Linked DNA regions of Homo sapiens: all the other regions are reported to be linked to region 1. The links are microRNA targets in miRTarBase. Many come from high-throughput screens and were not tested one by one. Region 1 holds a microRNA gene; each other region holds the end of a gene's coding sequence.
Evidence for each region. The annotated mature microRNA hsa-miR-629-3p reads GUUCUCCCAACGUAAGCCCAGC and lies in region 1 at 1,439-1,460, opposite strand. An mRNA with a match to its seed (bases 2 to 7 or 8) in the 3' UTR can be bound and repressed. Matches are read on the target gene's strand: a 7mer-m8 pairs with bases 2 to 8, a 7mer-A1 pairs with bases 2 to 7 and ends in A, and an 8mer does both.

Region 1 (3,253 bases):
TAGCCAGGACACCATACATCAGGGTTTCTCAAACACCATGCTATTGACATCTGAGGTCAGATAATTCACTGCTGTGTGGAGCCCGTTCTGTGCACTGCAGGGCTTTTAAAAGCATCCCTGGCCTCTCCACCCACTAGACACCCGTCATTCATACTCTAAGGAACCCAGGAGGATTACTAAATAATCATTATATAAATTGTTAATCTAGTTAAGTGGGAAGAGCTCTCCCAAACAGGGTCCTTCCTCACTCTGCTTATTTTTTCCTCGCCTAAATCAACTGATAGTAGGAATGGGGAATGAAGCAAAAAAGTCCGGGTTGGATAGGGCAGGAGTTCTAGAAACAAGCATAGGCTGCAGCTCACTCCAAACCGGCAGAGTAACAAGTTCTCTCACCTTTGAGTTCATGCACCAAATAAGAATAGAAAGATATGTAAAAAACAAAAAGCAAACAAAAATAAACAAAAAAAACCAACCTTACTGTTTAGGAAGCTCACAGGTCCAAGGCCTGTTATCTTAAACAACAATAGAGCAGTGTCTGGCACACAGTAGCTGCTCCGTAAATGTTTGGCCCAAAGAATAGTATCACTGGCATCTCTGCATTTATTGAGACTTCATATTGCAGTGACCCCTTGCTGTGGATCTGGGCCTGCCCCAGCATGGGCAGCATCTGTGGGAGGGGCCGTGGTGGATGGAGTGTTGACATACACTTGGTGGCCAGTGGCCCAAGCCCTTCACCAACGGGGTGGGGTGGCACCTCCAAGCCAGGCCAATCGCAAGCCACCTAGATGGGTCCCTGGCCACTACTCCTCCCCACAGCCAGGAAGGCAGGGGCAAGGTCAGAACATCCCCAGTCATTCTGGCCTCCTCAGCAACTATTAACTCTCACAGTCTCTGGGAGAGCAGGGAGGCAGGGTGATTATAAAAGGGTTCTGGCTATGGCCTCCTTCCACTGGTAAACAGGCCAAGGGTCAGGGTCTCGGGAGTTGACAAAAAAGAAACGTAGCTGACCTTGCCCTTCCCCACACCCTTCAGCAAACACGTGGCCAAAGGCTTCCCACAGACAGGATCTTCCCATAGGGCTGGTCTGGAGCCCAGCTCACTCTGGTTATGAGGACAACGGATCTCCCAGGATTTATGTAGCCATCCGGGCCATCAGGTGACCACAGCTGGGTGGCTCAGGGCAAGTCCTCTCTCATTCTCACCCCTCCACCCTCCTAAAGTAGTTCCTGCCTCCCAACACCACAAACAAGCATCAACTGAGGGCTATCGCAACAATGCCACACAGATGCAGAACCTTCCACAAGCCTGGGGTAGTGGCATTCAGGCTGTCTTTCCTGAGGCCCATGTTCGACGAAGAGAGGCCTCTCTGCAAGGCAGGAAGGACTTTGGCACGTCACCAGACAGGACTGTGTAGGGTTGAGGCAGGCAGAGGGGAGGGGCTGGGCTTACGTTGGGAGAACCTCCTGGTTCACCGTAAAAGTTCTCCCAACGTAAACCCAGCCCCTCCCCTGGGAAAGGGACATGAAGCAAGCACATCCCATCCCTCCCAGCTGTCACTGTGCCATCATCTGCTAGTACCCTCTTGGGGTCTCCCCACAAAGTGGAAGCAGGGATTGGGCCTCCCCCATCTCTACAAAGGCTGCCCAACCCTGAGAATGGGCTGCGTGCACTCTGCAGAGTCAAAGCATGAACAGGAAAGCTGTTCGCTCAACATTTTAAAGAAATGTTTATTTTTTGGAGGGTGGCGCTTGGGGGAGGGGAAGTTCCTGGAAATGGAAAGCTGGCTTAACAGAAGCCCTCCTAACAACAGTAATGACCGCTGATATCACCCACCCAACTCGCCATGTGTGCATCCACAATAACCCCGCGGAGAAGGCGCTTGTCAACATCTCCACTTTTCAGATGGGGAAACTGATGCCCAGCCATTAAGTGATTTCACTAAATGACTTCCTACCAAGAAGCCAAATTTTGACATTTCAAGAGAGCTTAGAGAAATATTTTTGAAAGAAAAACCACCATTAAGGTTAATAATTGACAGCACTTCTGATTAGAACAGCTGTTAAAACAGCATTGGATCCAACTCAAACAAGCTCTAAACATCAGTTCCAAAAAAGGAAAAAAAAAAAAAAAAATCAAGTGTGACTTCAACAATTGGGACAGGTCACAAATCACAAACTGGAACTCGATCGTATGTTGGAAAACTCCTTTTGGCAACTTGGCGCAATCCGTTATCGATAAGGCGGCTGTAGTTTCCAGAGGCCGACCTCCATCCTTCCCTCCATCTCGGTCCCACAAAGCCACTGCTTTTGAGCCAGGTCTTCAGAAGCGAATCTGAGAGGTGGTGGGAGGTGGGAAGATGGCTCCCTTTGGAAAGCACTTTGGAAAAGGTGTTCAGGGAGGCTGGTGCCGCCTTTGAAAGTTTCTTTTCAAGTATGGTTCAAAGCAGGCGCTTTGTTGGTGGAAAAACATTGTTCCTCAGAAGGAACTAATCTACTAGATACAGACAGAGAAGCAGTTCAGAGAAATGGGGACAGAGGTCCTGCTACATCCGGAATCTGCACTACCAACTGGGCGCTGGGAGTAACATCTGCCCTGCATCTCTGTCAAGATTGTTAGGCAAATAAATGACAGAAAACAAGATAGTGGGGGGCAAGTGTAATTTCCCAAACAGCAATCTGTTCCATGCGCCTTAGTAGCTCCCATTTGCATGATCATCTCCTCATTAAAGCAGGACCTCTGAACATCTTGCTGTAAACCGAGGGTACTTGAGCATTCTAAAAGTCTATTTCTCTAACCACAGTCTAGTATTCACGTTTGCTGCTACTTCAGACTATCCTTGGCCCTTGACCCAAGACACTAAATTAAGGGAAACGGAGCCTGCTCTTGATCTGTACCCCCCAGCAACCTCCTGCTCCTGGGCTTGCAGCACCCAGCCAGTCCTTGCCCTTATTTTTAATTTAGGTGACTGTGTCCAACACACCGTCGAGAGCTACTTCCACCAGAGAGTCTGTCTGCTAGTTAGTTTTAAACTGCCCTGTCGTGTGTACCTGTGGACTCTGAATGCACAATTCCTTTTAACCTCAGCCAAATAAAGGCAAGGAGAAGAGAAAACTGCCCCTTCAAAGAGTGTGTTATGCTCCAACGCCACGCAGAGATGAGCTGGCTTCTACCTCCAATTCTGCCTCCATTTAGTTGTGTGGCTTTGGGCAAATCACTTCCCTTCTCTAGGCATTAATTTCGTTGTCTGCAAAAT
Region 2 (3,253 bases), not on the chromosome of region 1:
GCGCCTAGCCTTACCAGCCCTTTAGTAATAAGCACTTTTCAGAGAATTGAAGCTGTTCAGCCTGGAGATGAGGCGCAATATCACCCTGGACACTGGAAGTCTGGTTGGATGCTGGGGTCAGCTAAAAACAAAACAACACTGGAGAGCAGAGGCTGTGGCTTGGCTGCCTTGACCCTGCAGGAGGAGCTTGGACTGGCCCCAGGTGATGCTGCCTTTGCTGTCCTAGGAGAGGCCTGGCAGGGTCCTTTCCATCCCAGAAATGCTGTGATCAGAGCCAATAAGCACCCACTGGAAGCTTCATCTGCCCAAAGGAGTCTGCCTTCATCAGCATAATTCATTGCGCGCCAGCTTCACTCAGTGACTGTTTTGGAAGGTGAAGGGCTATCAGAAACAATTTTAAGTCCCTGCTTTCAGGAAGTCAAGCATAACAAATAATATGCACCCATGAGAACTCTCCATGAGGGGCTGAGGTCTCTGGGGCTCTCGTGAGCTGTCCACCCAGACTGTGTGATAGAACCCAGAGGAGGAGAGAACCCGGGACTGGGAGGGTCAAGAATGAATCCGGAGCTGGGCGCGGTGACTCATGCCTGTAATCCCAGCACTTTGGGAGGCCGAGACAGGTGGATCACGAGGTCAGGAGATGGAGACCATCCTGGCTAACACGGTGAAACCCCGTCTCTACTAAAAATACAAAAAATTAGCCAGCCTGGTGGCAGGGCTGCCTGTAGTCCCAGCTACTCAGAAGGCCGAGGCAGGAGAATGATGGGAACCCGGGAGGCGGAGCTTGCAGTGAGCCGAGATCGCGCCACTGCACTCCAGCCTGGGCGACAGAGCGAGACTCCATCTCAAAAAAAAAAAAAAAAGAAAAAGAAAAAAAAGAATATCCGGGCCCAGCTGGCACGCTGTGCAGCAGCAGTGAAGCCTGAAGCACGGACGCGTCTAGTGGGTGAGGCTGAACACCAAGAGCCTTGGATTCTGCGGCTGAGGCTTGGGGCCTTTTCCTAGCGGCCCTGGAGGGCTGCTAGGTGGTTCTGAGCAGCAGATGAAGCTGGGATTCGGGGCCCCAGAGTCCTGGAAGTGCACTGTGCAGAATCTCCTCAGAGGGTGCTGGCTTGACCATTACCATTTCATTGACCATTGTACTACTGTTTACTACCATACTACCACCAAATTTTACCATTGACATTTATACTATTATTCACTTAAAGAAAATGATTAAAATAAATGTGCAGTTTGAAAGGCAAACTGCGGCCGGGCACGGTGGCTCAGGCCTGTAATCCTAACACTTTGGGAGGCCAAGGCGGGCGGATCACAAGGTCAGGAGTTTGAGACCAGCCTAGCCAACATGCTGAAACTCCATCTCTACTAAAAATACAAAAATTAGCCAGGTGTGATGGCGGCGCACACGTGTAATCCCAGCTACTCAGGAGGCTGAGGCAGAAGAATCACTTGAACCCAGGAGGCGGAGGTTGCAGTGAGCTGAGTTTGCATCACTGCACTCCAGCCTGGGCAACAGAGCAAGACTCGGTCTCATTAAAAAAAGAAGAAAAAAAAAAAAAAAAGAAAAGGCAAACTGCATTACTATGGTCCACAGAAAACCAGTCACATGAGCCACCAACAGAAGAGAACACAAACTAAGACCAAGGGAAGCCATGTTCCTAGCACCGTGCCATCCCTGCTCCCAGCTGAGGCTTGGAGGAGGCCTACCCTGCTGATCACACGGAGAAGAGCCAGGACTCCGAGGTCACCCGCACACAGCGGGATGGCATCTCCGACACTCCCGTGGGGAAGCAGCGTCACTGTGCCCTGAAGACTCATGTTTGAGATAGGCAGGCAGCGCTGCTCCATCAGCCGGCTGGACAGTTTTACATCTCAGGGAAGGGCACTGTGTCATGGATGTAAATGGCATGGCACAGCAATATCTGTGGTGTCTAGTGGTGATGAAGTCCAGGTGCTGTTAGTGGAGGAAATGCTAAATTGCAGTTAGACATTAATGAAAATAGAGATGCAATGCTTTTTCATTGTGATGCATGGGACCCCAAATTCTCCCTAGACCTCTGGACCCAGCATAAGGCTCCTGTGCCTGCTGGCCAGGCTAGGGTGTGGGGACCTTACCACGGCACGTTTCCTTGGTGAGGCCATGTCAACATTCCTCGTTTCTCACACTTAGGACCCCTCCCACGAGTGGGGGGTATGCAGCCCTCCAAGGAGCCAGTGGTCTCAGACCTGCCACCCCACAGCCAGAGGTTTCTGGCCCCAGGCCACTGGTGTTTTCCCTGCCAGTGCAGGTGAATTCTGGAAGGAGGGTGCCTGGGAGGTGGGTGTGGGGGTGGTGGGTGACTTCAAGCCTCCAAAGACCAGAGGGAAGGGTCTGCCTCATGGAGCTCCGTGAGCAAAGGCCAGGAGGCACCCAGGACCCCGAGTCCGTGCCAGCTGGCATCGGGGGGACTTGGAGATCAGCCTCCCCGGGGCCGCCACCTCCAGGGCCCTGCAGAGAACAGGGCTATCCTGAGCATGCCAGGGTCCTGGGAATGTCCCCCCACCCCTGTCACATCCCAGTCACCTGGCTGGCCGAGGGCCACCAGAGAGGAAATAGTTTGAAAAACCAAAGTCCTTTCTGCCCCAAAATATTTTTTATTCTTGCATTACATTTGTGTTTCCAATTGTGAATAAAAAATGCTTAGAAAGTGGTTACAAAACAGCGTGAACTGGACAGGAGGAGCAGCTGGCCCTGAGGGTCCGTCACTTCTCCACTTAGACGGCGTGAAGTGGGCCTGGCGTCTAGGCGGGGTCAGTCAGGCTTCTCACTCTCAGGATCTGGAAAACAAAACCGCGCAGCTGACTGTGGGCCCACCGCAGTGCTGGCCACTCGCCAAGGGCCAGGCCCTGACACCCTCCCAGGAGCTGCCGACGGGAAGGCTGCGCCAGCTCTGCCATGACCCACGCCCTGTGTAGATGGTCTTGTCCTCAGCACAGCCCTGGCGGCCTCTGTCACCTGGACCACCCTTCTTTGTGTGACCAGTCAGCACACTGAACGGCTGCCAGAAACCCAAACAGACGCTCTGCTCCTGTACCGTCTGGAGCATCTGGGGAGTGAGCTGCCCTCCAACACCCAAAACAGGAGGCTCTGGGATGAGTGTTCCTCCTCCCTCCATGCAGAAGCTCGAAGGCTGGCACTGCAGCTCTCTGAGGAGGTGGCCCCACAGCCAAGGCAGCCCCCACAGTGGACCGGGCAGGAGACACTGGGACCCTC
Region 3 (3,253 bases), not on the chromosome of region 1:
GCGCGATATAGGCTCACTGCAGCCTCCAACTCCCGGGTTCAAGCGATTCTCCTGCATCAGCCTGCCCAGTAGCTGGGACTAGAGGCACACGCCACCACACCCGGCTAAGTTTTTGTATTTTTTTAGTAGAGACAAGGTTTCACCGTGTGTTAGCCAGGATGGTCTCGATCTCCTGACCTTGTGATCCACCTGCCTTGGCCTTCCAAAGTGCTGGGATTACAGGTGTGAGCCACCACGCCCAGCCCCCTAGTAATATTTTTTAAAATTTGATGAAGTAGTTAGACCACGAATGAGGAGTTTCTCAGACACTGTGAAGCTTGATTTGTTCCTGTCTGTTGCAGGTTGTAGGTGGCCTAGATATCCACAAAAAGATGGTGGTAGATGTGTGACTCTTATCAGAGAGTACCACCCAACACTTTTGCTTTCTTCTCCATCTCTGAAGATCTGCTCAAGACGTCCAGCAATGCTCTCTGTGTATTTAAATGGAAGTATTTTTCTCTGTGAAGCCACATTTTCCAACATGAGCCTCATGAAGCCAACTAAGTGTTATTGAACTGTAATTCTCTCAATAACTCAGTGTAGCACTTTAAAGTCTGAAGGACAGCAACATGAAAAGAGCATATCAATGTGGTGGAGAAAGGGAAGGGGTTGGCTTTTTAATTTATTTTTCTTCATCTTTTATAACAAGAAAGTATCTATATATACATATGTAAATATTTATATATAGATATATGTAGCTTTCTATATATGTAGTAGGTTGGCTTTAATTTAATATACTTGATTCAGAAACAAAACAATAGAGTACAAAAGTGCCAAGCAGAACATAAAACATCCTTACTTTTATTTCACACAGTTTTATATATAGATAGAAGACTGTACAATTTGAGCCGGGTGTTAGGCCAGCTATTTTCCTTTTCCTGTGCTTTCTCCTTTGAGAGATTGACAAAGCATTTGTTAACGTCCTATTATTTACCTTAATTACATTTTTGTAACAAAGGAGTCTGTAACTTTATTTATACTTATGAATATATCCAGGGACTACTTCTCATTGCTGAGCAGCTTTTAATACACCTCTGCTTGAGGAGAAAGTCTAGTTCATTGCTACTGCCAAGAGCTAGTTCTTGTGTTCATATAGTAACTGCACAGGGCTTATAGCTGCTTCATTCTGCTACTTTGTAACTAGGAGCCATTGCATTTATTAAATGTCCCTCAGTAACGTTAAGTGCTAGTTGTGATTTTATACATAAAGGCCAGAAGCTGTCTGAGGCAATCATGATTGATTGTATGTATCACTTACTGAAGAATACCTGAAGTGATCATGTAACTACTTATAAGGGATATCCATTTGTTTGATTACATGGGTAAATAATTTGTCATTAAACTTGTGTTTGAATCATGAATTCCCTTGTTTCAAAAGACTTGCAGCTAATCTAAAAAACTGGTGATATTTAATATGCATGTATGTATCTAAACACCCACATATATTTGTGGTTTAAGTGTGAGAAATCTTGCTAATCTATATGCCACAGAAGAGCAAAATTGTATCCAAATTTATGCCACTTAAATTTCTTTACCACGAGGGATAGAGCATGCATACTGGTTTTTTTTTCTTGATTTGCCCATATAATTGGTAATGGATAACTTAATAAATTTGTGTGATATAAAAGTAGTGTATCATGTTCTACTGTTTGATCTTATCCCTTCCCATTTCTGCAAAGGTACTGTTAGCTGGAAGAAAAACATTTTGGTTAGCTTTGTATGACAGTAGTCTTTCCCTTTATAGTTTCTCTATAAAAACTGGTTTTAAAATCAGTGGAAAAGGGCAGGTTGAATCAAGGTGAATCAATCTGAAATTGAGCACACCTGCCTGCCATCGCTGTTCCTTCAACTGAGTGCTGCACATCATGGGCTCTGTCTGTGAGAGAAAAATCCCGGTGCTTGGTGTCCTTGCATGACATGGAGTTTTGCATGTAGATCAATTTAAAATGTACCTCTTGTTTACATAATTTGCATAATTTTAAAAGATAATGTTGCCAAACTTTGGAAATGTTAATGTTCAGACTGAAAATCTCCACTACATGTAACTTTCTTCCTCTGGATCAGTGGCATGGCTTATAATCCCAGCCAGTGGTTTGAACTGTTCCAGTGTCAACTGCCATGTGCTCTGCTTCAAGGGGGAACTAGCCTTTTGTGAATTTTTTGTACATAAGTATTTGTTACAAATATTTTAGCAAATGCTTTCTATTTCTCTTGCTTGTGCATATCTTGGCTGGCGTTACAGAAAAATAGTGTAAACATTATTTCCTTACCGGGGAATGAGGGTTTTTTCTTTTTCTTTTTTTTTTTTTTTTTTTTTAGTTTGTGTGTGGGGGTGGGTAAGGGAGGGGATGGTTTATGTTGAATGTTTAGTTTTTCTTCTGCATGATACGTCATGTTGTGGGATCTTTAGAAAACTTCATACTGTATGAATAAGAAAATAAAATATTTGAAACTTGCTTGAATGTATTCAGTGGTCTTTGATGGTTTCCATAGCTATGAGAATTTTTTTTCCTCTCAGGCTTTTAAATTCTTAAAAACAGTCTGGTAAAGTGACATTTAATCTCTATAAAAACCTACAAATTCCTGTAGTACTCTCCCATCACCTCCTGCCATGACTTCCCTTACTGCTACCCCTCTCTCTACTCCAGCCATGTTAGCCTCCGGTGGTACCTGGAGTCTTGGGTTTGTGTCTCTTAGGCCCTTGCGCTATCAGTCCCTTTTTGCCCCTTTCCTTTCCCAGTATCTCATAGCTAATGCCTTCAGGTGTTTGTTCAGTTACAGCCTAGCTCAAAAGGAACTGTCCTGGCTACCCTATTAAAAAATACAGATACGCCTGGCTCTTCTTTCCTCCTCTATATTTTTCCTTCTACAATGGCATTTATTCTTTTCTGACACAGTTTACTTACGTATTTTGTATTCCCTGACTACTGAATAAAATGAAAGCTCCAAAAGGGTAGTGATTTGTCTCTTGTTCACTGATAGCCCCAGCCCAGTTGTCCAGAGTATTACCTAGCTCTTAGTGTTTACCCAATAAATAATTAATAAATTAATGTGATACCCTGTTTATGCAGGTTGTGATTTTATAATAAATGCTATTCAGTATTTTTAAAAGGTAAAATTGGCATTTCTTGAGATTACATTTACTTGGTAACTTTGCTTTCATTTATTCAACTTTACAGTCCCTACTACATGTCCATCACTGTAATAGGCACTT

Region 2: miRTarBase lists WNK2 as a target of hsa-miR-629-3p. The part of its 3' UTR that is shown has no 7-base or 8-base seed match.
Region 3: the mRNA of PPP3R1 is a reported target of hsa-miR-629-3p. Seed matches in the 3' UTR shown: 7mer-A1 at 633-639 and 7mer-A1 at 1,082-1,088.

The regions. Positions count from the first base shown.
Region 1 is chr15:70,077,949-70,081,201 of GRCh38, forward strand. It overlaps MIR629 (microRNA 629), which reads right to left and starts at 1,520; the gene lies at 1,424-1,520. The region is part of intron 4 of TLE3 (TLE family member 3, transcriptional corepressor); the gene reads right to left. RefSeq lists enhancers at 371-977, 978-1,584.
Region 2 is chr9:93,319,931-93,323,183 of GRCh38, reverse strand. It overlaps WNK2 (WNK lysine deficient protein kinase 2), which reads right to left. Exons shown (of 30, transcript NM_006648.4): 30 at 2,615-2,817. The coding sequence ends at 2,792. Among named protein-coding and RNA genes, the nearest start is that of FAM120A, 130 kb to the left of the region's middle.
Region 3 is chr2:68,178,099-68,181,351 of GRCh38, reverse strand. PPP3R1 (protein phosphatase 3 regulatory subunit B, alpha) reads left to right here. Exons shown (of 6, transcript NM_000945.4): 6 at 342-2,495. The coding sequence ends at 389. Among named protein-coding and RNA genes, the nearest start is that of PNO1, 22 kb to the right of the region's middle.